Linked DNA regions of Homo sapiens: region 2 is linked to region 1. Evidence: fine-mapped expression QTL. A gene starts in region 1. The other region holds a variant in brackets. All regions are shown on one strand. Distances are from middle to middle. Region 1 holds the start of CCNYL1 (cyclin Y like 1). Region 2 holds the start of MIR4775 (microRNA 4775).

Evidence for each region. PIP is the estimated chance that this variant, and not a neighbour inherited with it, causes the effect.
Region 2: its variant is fine-mapped to the expression of CCNYL1 in whole blood (TOPMed, PIP above 0.99).

Annotation. Positions count from the first base shown.
Region 1 is chr2:207,710,068-207,712,978 of GRCh38, reverse strand. It overlaps CCNYL1 (cyclin Y like 1), which reads right to left and starts at 1,339. Exons shown (of 10, transcript NM_001330218.2): 1 at 863-1,339. The coding sequence starts at 1,082. RefSeq lists silencers at 516-675, 688-797, 1,218-1,667 and enhancers at 539-1,535, 1,888-1,937, 1,948-2,147.
Region 2 is chr2:207,753,990-207,756,900 of GRCh38, reverse strand. It overlaps CCNYL1 (cyclin Y like 1), which reads right to left. Exons shown (of 10, transcript NM_001330218.2): 10 at 727-2,911. It overlaps MIR4775 (microRNA 4775), which reads right to left and starts at 2,094; the gene lies at 2,020-2,094. The variant G/A (reference allele first, on the strand shown) is at 1,543.

The DNA.
Region 1 (2,911 bases):
CTGGGCGTGGTGGCGCACGCCTGTAATCCCAGCTACTCGGGAGGCTGAGGCAGAGGAATCGCTTGAAACCGAGAGGCGGAGGTTGCAGCGAGCCGAGATCGCGCCACTGCACTCCAGCCTGGGCGGGCGACAAAACGAGATTCCGTCTCAAAAAAACAACTTGTCTGCACCCCTGGTAATAACCTCTCACACCCTTCACAGTCATTTTACGCCCCTCCCCCCATTTTCTTTCTTTCTGTGTTCAAATTATAGTTGGAAGGAATAAAGCAGCTTCTTTCACGCCGACTTAACCTATTAGGAATACCATATAGTGTCTCCTATGGCAACCTCTATTTTGAGTCTAGATAAGAAATCCTCAAACATCTGGGTCTAAACTGTCGCGGGCATCAGCTATCTTCACGGATGGGAGGAAGGAACAATCAGACCCTTACCTGGTTCCTTCACTTAGGTACCATCTGGATGGGTTAAGGGAGGGAATGGGATGAGTACTCCGAAGTTGAGGTATTTGAGTTTCCATTGAGAAAAGGAAAACAATATACCCCAAAAGTCTTAGCAAAGTCCCACCAGACAATGAACAGAGCTACAAACAAGAAGGGCGGCGGACTAGAGGGTCCCACGCCGGCTTGGGAGAATGGGAAGCGGGAGCAAGAACTGGGCGTTACGGTAAGGAGGAGGAAAAGAAACTGGCCAGACGCAGCAGGGCAAGAATAAGGGGTGGGGACGCGAGGCAGAACCAGCCTTCGTCCCGGGGCCGGCTACCGGCAGGAAGGAGCCCGAGGCGGCGGATGCCTCCCGGGGGACTCTGGGGGAGGAGGCGGGCAGAGGTGAGCCCGAGGGCGGATGGCATCCGCCGCCTCCTTACCTTCGGGCATCTCGCGGTCGCTGATGTGCTGCAGGTGGTGGCCCTCGCCCTCTCCGAAATCCAACTCGGCAGGCTCCACCACAGCGGGCGCTACCGCCACCGCGTCCCCGGACACCGCCTCGTAGATGTCGGACGCGCAGTACAGCTCCGCCGACCCCGCGCGCCGGCCCAGCTTGGGGCTGGCATTGGGGGACACGCAACAGGTCAGCGTGTTCCCCATGGGAAGCCTCCGCTCCTCTCTGCCACCGCCTTCGCTCGCCCCCTACTCCGCCGCCCTCAACAGCCGCCCCCTCCCCCAACAATGGCGCGGCCGGCACCGGCAGCCCCGGGCTACGCTGGGGCTGCACCGCGCAAGCAGACGCCGCCTCGCCCGCGGTTCGCCCGCCCGCCCCGCGGCCCGGCCCCGGGCAGGGCTCGGGCCTCGGCCGCACCCCCACCGCCGCGCTGCCGCCGCCTCCCTTAAGCTGACTCGTCTGCGAGGGCGGTGACCAGCCCGGCTTATTTAAAAGGGGTGGGGAACCCAACAAGCGCTGTGAAGCACAGCCACTGCCGGGAGAGAGCGCGGCTGGAGCTCCTCCTCCTTCCGCCGCCGCCTACCGACTGAAGGCCGCTGGCCCTGGCCGGTGCCTGCCAACCGGAACGCGACCTGCGGTCACCTGGTTAGGAGGAACCAATCATGGTCAGAGTTCCCCCTCCGGCGCCCGCCTCGAAGCCAGGCACGTGACCTGCTGCCCCGCCCCCGCCTGGCAGCTGCCCAGCCCCTCACGCCGCTATCCCAGACTCGGGTTTTCATTCATCGCTGGCTGCTGGGAGCTTTCCGGTCCTACTGGAAGCGCACGGGCATTTGTAACTGGAAGCTGTGTCAATGATCTCTGTAGAAAGCCGTTATTAGTAAAGAGTTCGCTCCATTAGCAACTCTTCTTCCGAGTCTGACAGCTTTCGTTTGCTCACTAAACTTGGTTACACCCAAATTGTTAACTGTTTTTGTAACTCAGTGCTCCGCTCCTGTCTTCCAATGAGCGTTAGTTTTCACCTGCAACGTGATCATAGCAACCCTGGGGCCCTGGTCCTACTCTCCATAAAGAGTTGTGGCTGTGGGTCTTGAATGAGACTCGAGGACACGTCACCCTTCCACTTCCTCATCCATAAAATAGGGACCTAACTCGTCCCTGCCAACTCTGAAATGCTGGGACTCGCCAACTCCCTTTTCTTGCCTGTTTCTCTCCTCTAGGCAGGGACTTCCAGGTTTCTCTTCTTGTACTAAAAACAGCACAGAAAGCACGATTTTCTCACGCAAAACTGAGAACCATGCAGTGGGGCACCACAGTCTTGATTCCATGAAGATGAATAGTTACCATTTGGCAAGCACTATGTGCCAGACAGTGTTCCAACTGTGGTATATTTATTTAACCCTTAAAAACAATCCCGGCCGGGCGCGGTGGCTCATGCCTGTAATCCCAACACTTTGGGAGGCCGAGGCGGGCGGATCACCAGGTCAGGAGATCCAGACCATCCTGGCTAACACGGTGAAATCCCGTCTCTACTAAAAATACAAAAAATTAGCCGGGCATGGTGGCACGCGCCCGTATTCCCAGCTACTCGGGAGGCTGAGGCAGGAGAATCACTTGAACCCGGGAGGCAGAGGTTGCCGTAAGCCGAGATCGCGCCATTGCACTCCAGCCTGGGCGACCTAGGCTCCGTTTCAAAAAAATAAAACATAAAAATAAAAATAAATAAACAAATATATATATATACACACAATGTCACTTCCTCCCTAAGCTTGATTTCTACCTTTATTTTCTGATCATCATGATCAGGGACCCTCACCCTGAGCAGTCATGTAAGCTTGCGGAAGTAACTTAACTTCTGCGTCCCAATTTCTTCTATAAAACCTGCAAAATGGGATTGTTTTTTTTTTGTTTTTTTTTTTTTGAGACGGAGTTTTGCTCTTGTTGGGCGCGGTGGCTCACGTCTGTAATCCCAGCACTTAGAGAGGCAGAGGCGGGTGAATTGCTTGAGGTCAGGAGTTCAAGACCAGCCTGACCAACA
Region 2 (2,911 bases), 44 kb before region 1:
TCTCAAACTCTTGGCCTCAAGTGATCGACCCACCTTGGGCTCCCAAAGTGCTGGGATTACGGGCGTGAGCCACCGTGCCTGACTGTGATCATTTACTTAAATATTTGACTTTAGGTAATGAAGAATTAAAGTGGATGAAAATATTGCAATGCTATCAGGATTTATTGAGAATTGCTAAAGCTGAGTGGCTAGACTCTTAGTTCTAAAGAAACCTAATAGTGACTTGGTATATTTTTAACTGAAATGTAAGCTTGAAAATAGCACATTAAAGTCAAATTATGTGGCTTAAGACATCCTCTCAACAGCAACACAAATTCTAGTTCCTGTCTTTCCATTCTCTTTCCTGTTTGTCTGAAAACCTCAAATACCTCTTGTTCTAATTCTACGCTATTCCTTTAATTCCTTTCTCTTTGATACATTTTGCTTAATTTTATATTCTAATGTGCTTTTCCCTCTCAGACACGATAACCAACTATTCAAGATGCCATCTAATGCACTATGCCATTAAGTATTGTGGTCAGTGATTTTAAGTGTAATAAATTATCTTCAGGTTGAAAAGAGCATATGCAAAAGAAATGGATCACTACATCTTAACTAGAGGCATGGATCAAATCAACTTATGGTTGGTTTGAAAATGCTTTAAGACATATCAGGATTGACTTAAAACTAGGCTGGGCAGAGATGTAACACTATGTGGATAGAAGTGTTACAAACACACTAGCCATATTTTAATTAAAATAGAGTTTATTAGCTTTTAATATAAACATGAGAAATAAAAACCACATAAATTGTAGCATTCTTTTCAAAATAAAACTGCAATCAATACTTGAATCTCCAAACTCTGAATTCCATAAACAATATTTGTTTTTTTGAGGTGGTAGATTGTAATATTTGTATACCATTATTTATCATTTATGTCTCTGTCCTTTAAAAATGATGGAAACTGCAGCACAATATGATGTGAAGCATTGCTATAATAGAGGAAGTACTCCTGTCCCAGAAATGCTTTGTTTATAAGCAAGATTCCTAGGATTAGATTTGAGAAAGTAGGAGAAACAGATTTCACATAGTTGAGAACACTAACCTCTTCTTAGTATTTCAAATTTAGGTGACATTATCGGTCTCCTAAAATTATTTGCTCCTTGCCTTTTAAAGCCTGAAGAGTTCCTAAGGGTTATGTAAGTATTTCTTAAATAGCAGGACTTAATGGGACACCTACAGCTTGGTAGCATGTAGGATGATAAAACAGCTGTTCATATCACCTTCTATAATTAGGGTCCAATTCCTTTTATTACATGTTAATTAACACTGCTCTTCAAAATCTTCCTTTAAAGAAACTGCGGTAATCAAAGCATATAGAGCACAGCTCTGCGGGTAACTACTTTTAAAAAGAGGGCATTTTATGGAGATACAAGGTATTCCAAAAGTTCAGTGTAATTTTAAGCTTTGATACTTGTAGAAATATAAATGCTACAAACCTTTACAAAACCTTGTCTGAACATTTTTCTTCTGCTTTTTTCTTTGAGACAGGGTCTGGATGTC[G/A]CCCAGGTTGGAGAGCAGTGACATGATCATGGCCCACTGCAGCCTTGACCTCCTGGGCTCTACTGATCCTCCCACCTTAGCCTCCAGAGTGGCTGGGACTACAGACACATGCCACCATATCCAACTATTTTTATTATTTTTTTTTACAGGCAGGGTCTCACTATGTTGCCTAGACTGGTCTTGAACTCCTGCACTCAAGCAATCCTTCCACCTCAGCCTCCCAGGGTACTGAGATTACAGGCATGAATCACTATGCCCAGCCCATTTCTTTTGCATTTAATTTTGCATTTTTCTAAGAGATGGGGTCTTGATAACGTTGTCCAGGTTGGAGTGTAGTAGCTATTCCTATAGGCACCATCATGGTACACTGCAGCCTCCAATACTTGACCTCAAGCAATCCTCCAGCCTCAGCCTCCCAAGTAGCTGGGACTATAGGCGTGCACCACCACACCCAGCTTCATTTTGCAAATTTTGAATATAAAGCTTTTAATTTTTTGTTTCAGTCAATGTCTGCTATCAAGAGTGACCGAAACAAAAAATTAAAAGCTTAATATTCAGGAGACAGGTGCCAGTTGCACTTGTAGTCCCAGCTACTTGTGTGGCTGAGGCTAGAGGATGGCTTGAGACCAGGAAGTTCTAGGCTGCAGTGAGTGCACAATGATTGCACCTGTGAAAAGCCACTGCACTCCAGCCTGGACAACGCAGTAAGACCCCCATCTCTTTAAAAACAAACAAAACAAAACAAAAAACTTTCAAATCATGTTTTTTAAAGGTTTATAGCATTTATACTCATGCTGCAGTGCCTTGGAGGGCCCAAACTATATTCAAGCTTAAAACTGCTTCACTTTTTCTCATCGTCACTGAACCACCATGTTGGTTGGCATTATGAAAATATCTTTTAATACATTTATTTAGCAAGAGAAAAATTATCAGAAAATGAGAAGCACCATTTATAGTTCACAAGAAATGCAACATGGACTCCAATAGAAGTAGATATCAATAACTGATACTTCCTCTGTTTATGACCCCAAACATGCTAAAATGCTAAAGTAATGCTTGCAAAGAATATGAATGACAAATGTTATCCAGCAGCTTTTTGGTTTAAAATGATTGCCAATGACTAGCAGCTTCAATGGTAACAGTAGGGAGGAAGAACCCTTCAGTACCTAACAACGCTGCTGTCTGCTCCTAAGTGGCTTTAGTTAGAGTCCCATGTTTTAATGGTAATACTGCATTGATTTTAAAGGCATATGCAGCAAAATGCGGGGGGAGGGAGAGAAACTGGAAGAAACATAAAAGTTATATGGTTAGTGTCTTTAAAGTCTAAAAATTTAAACTATTGTTTAAAAAACCTTACATAGTTCACAGC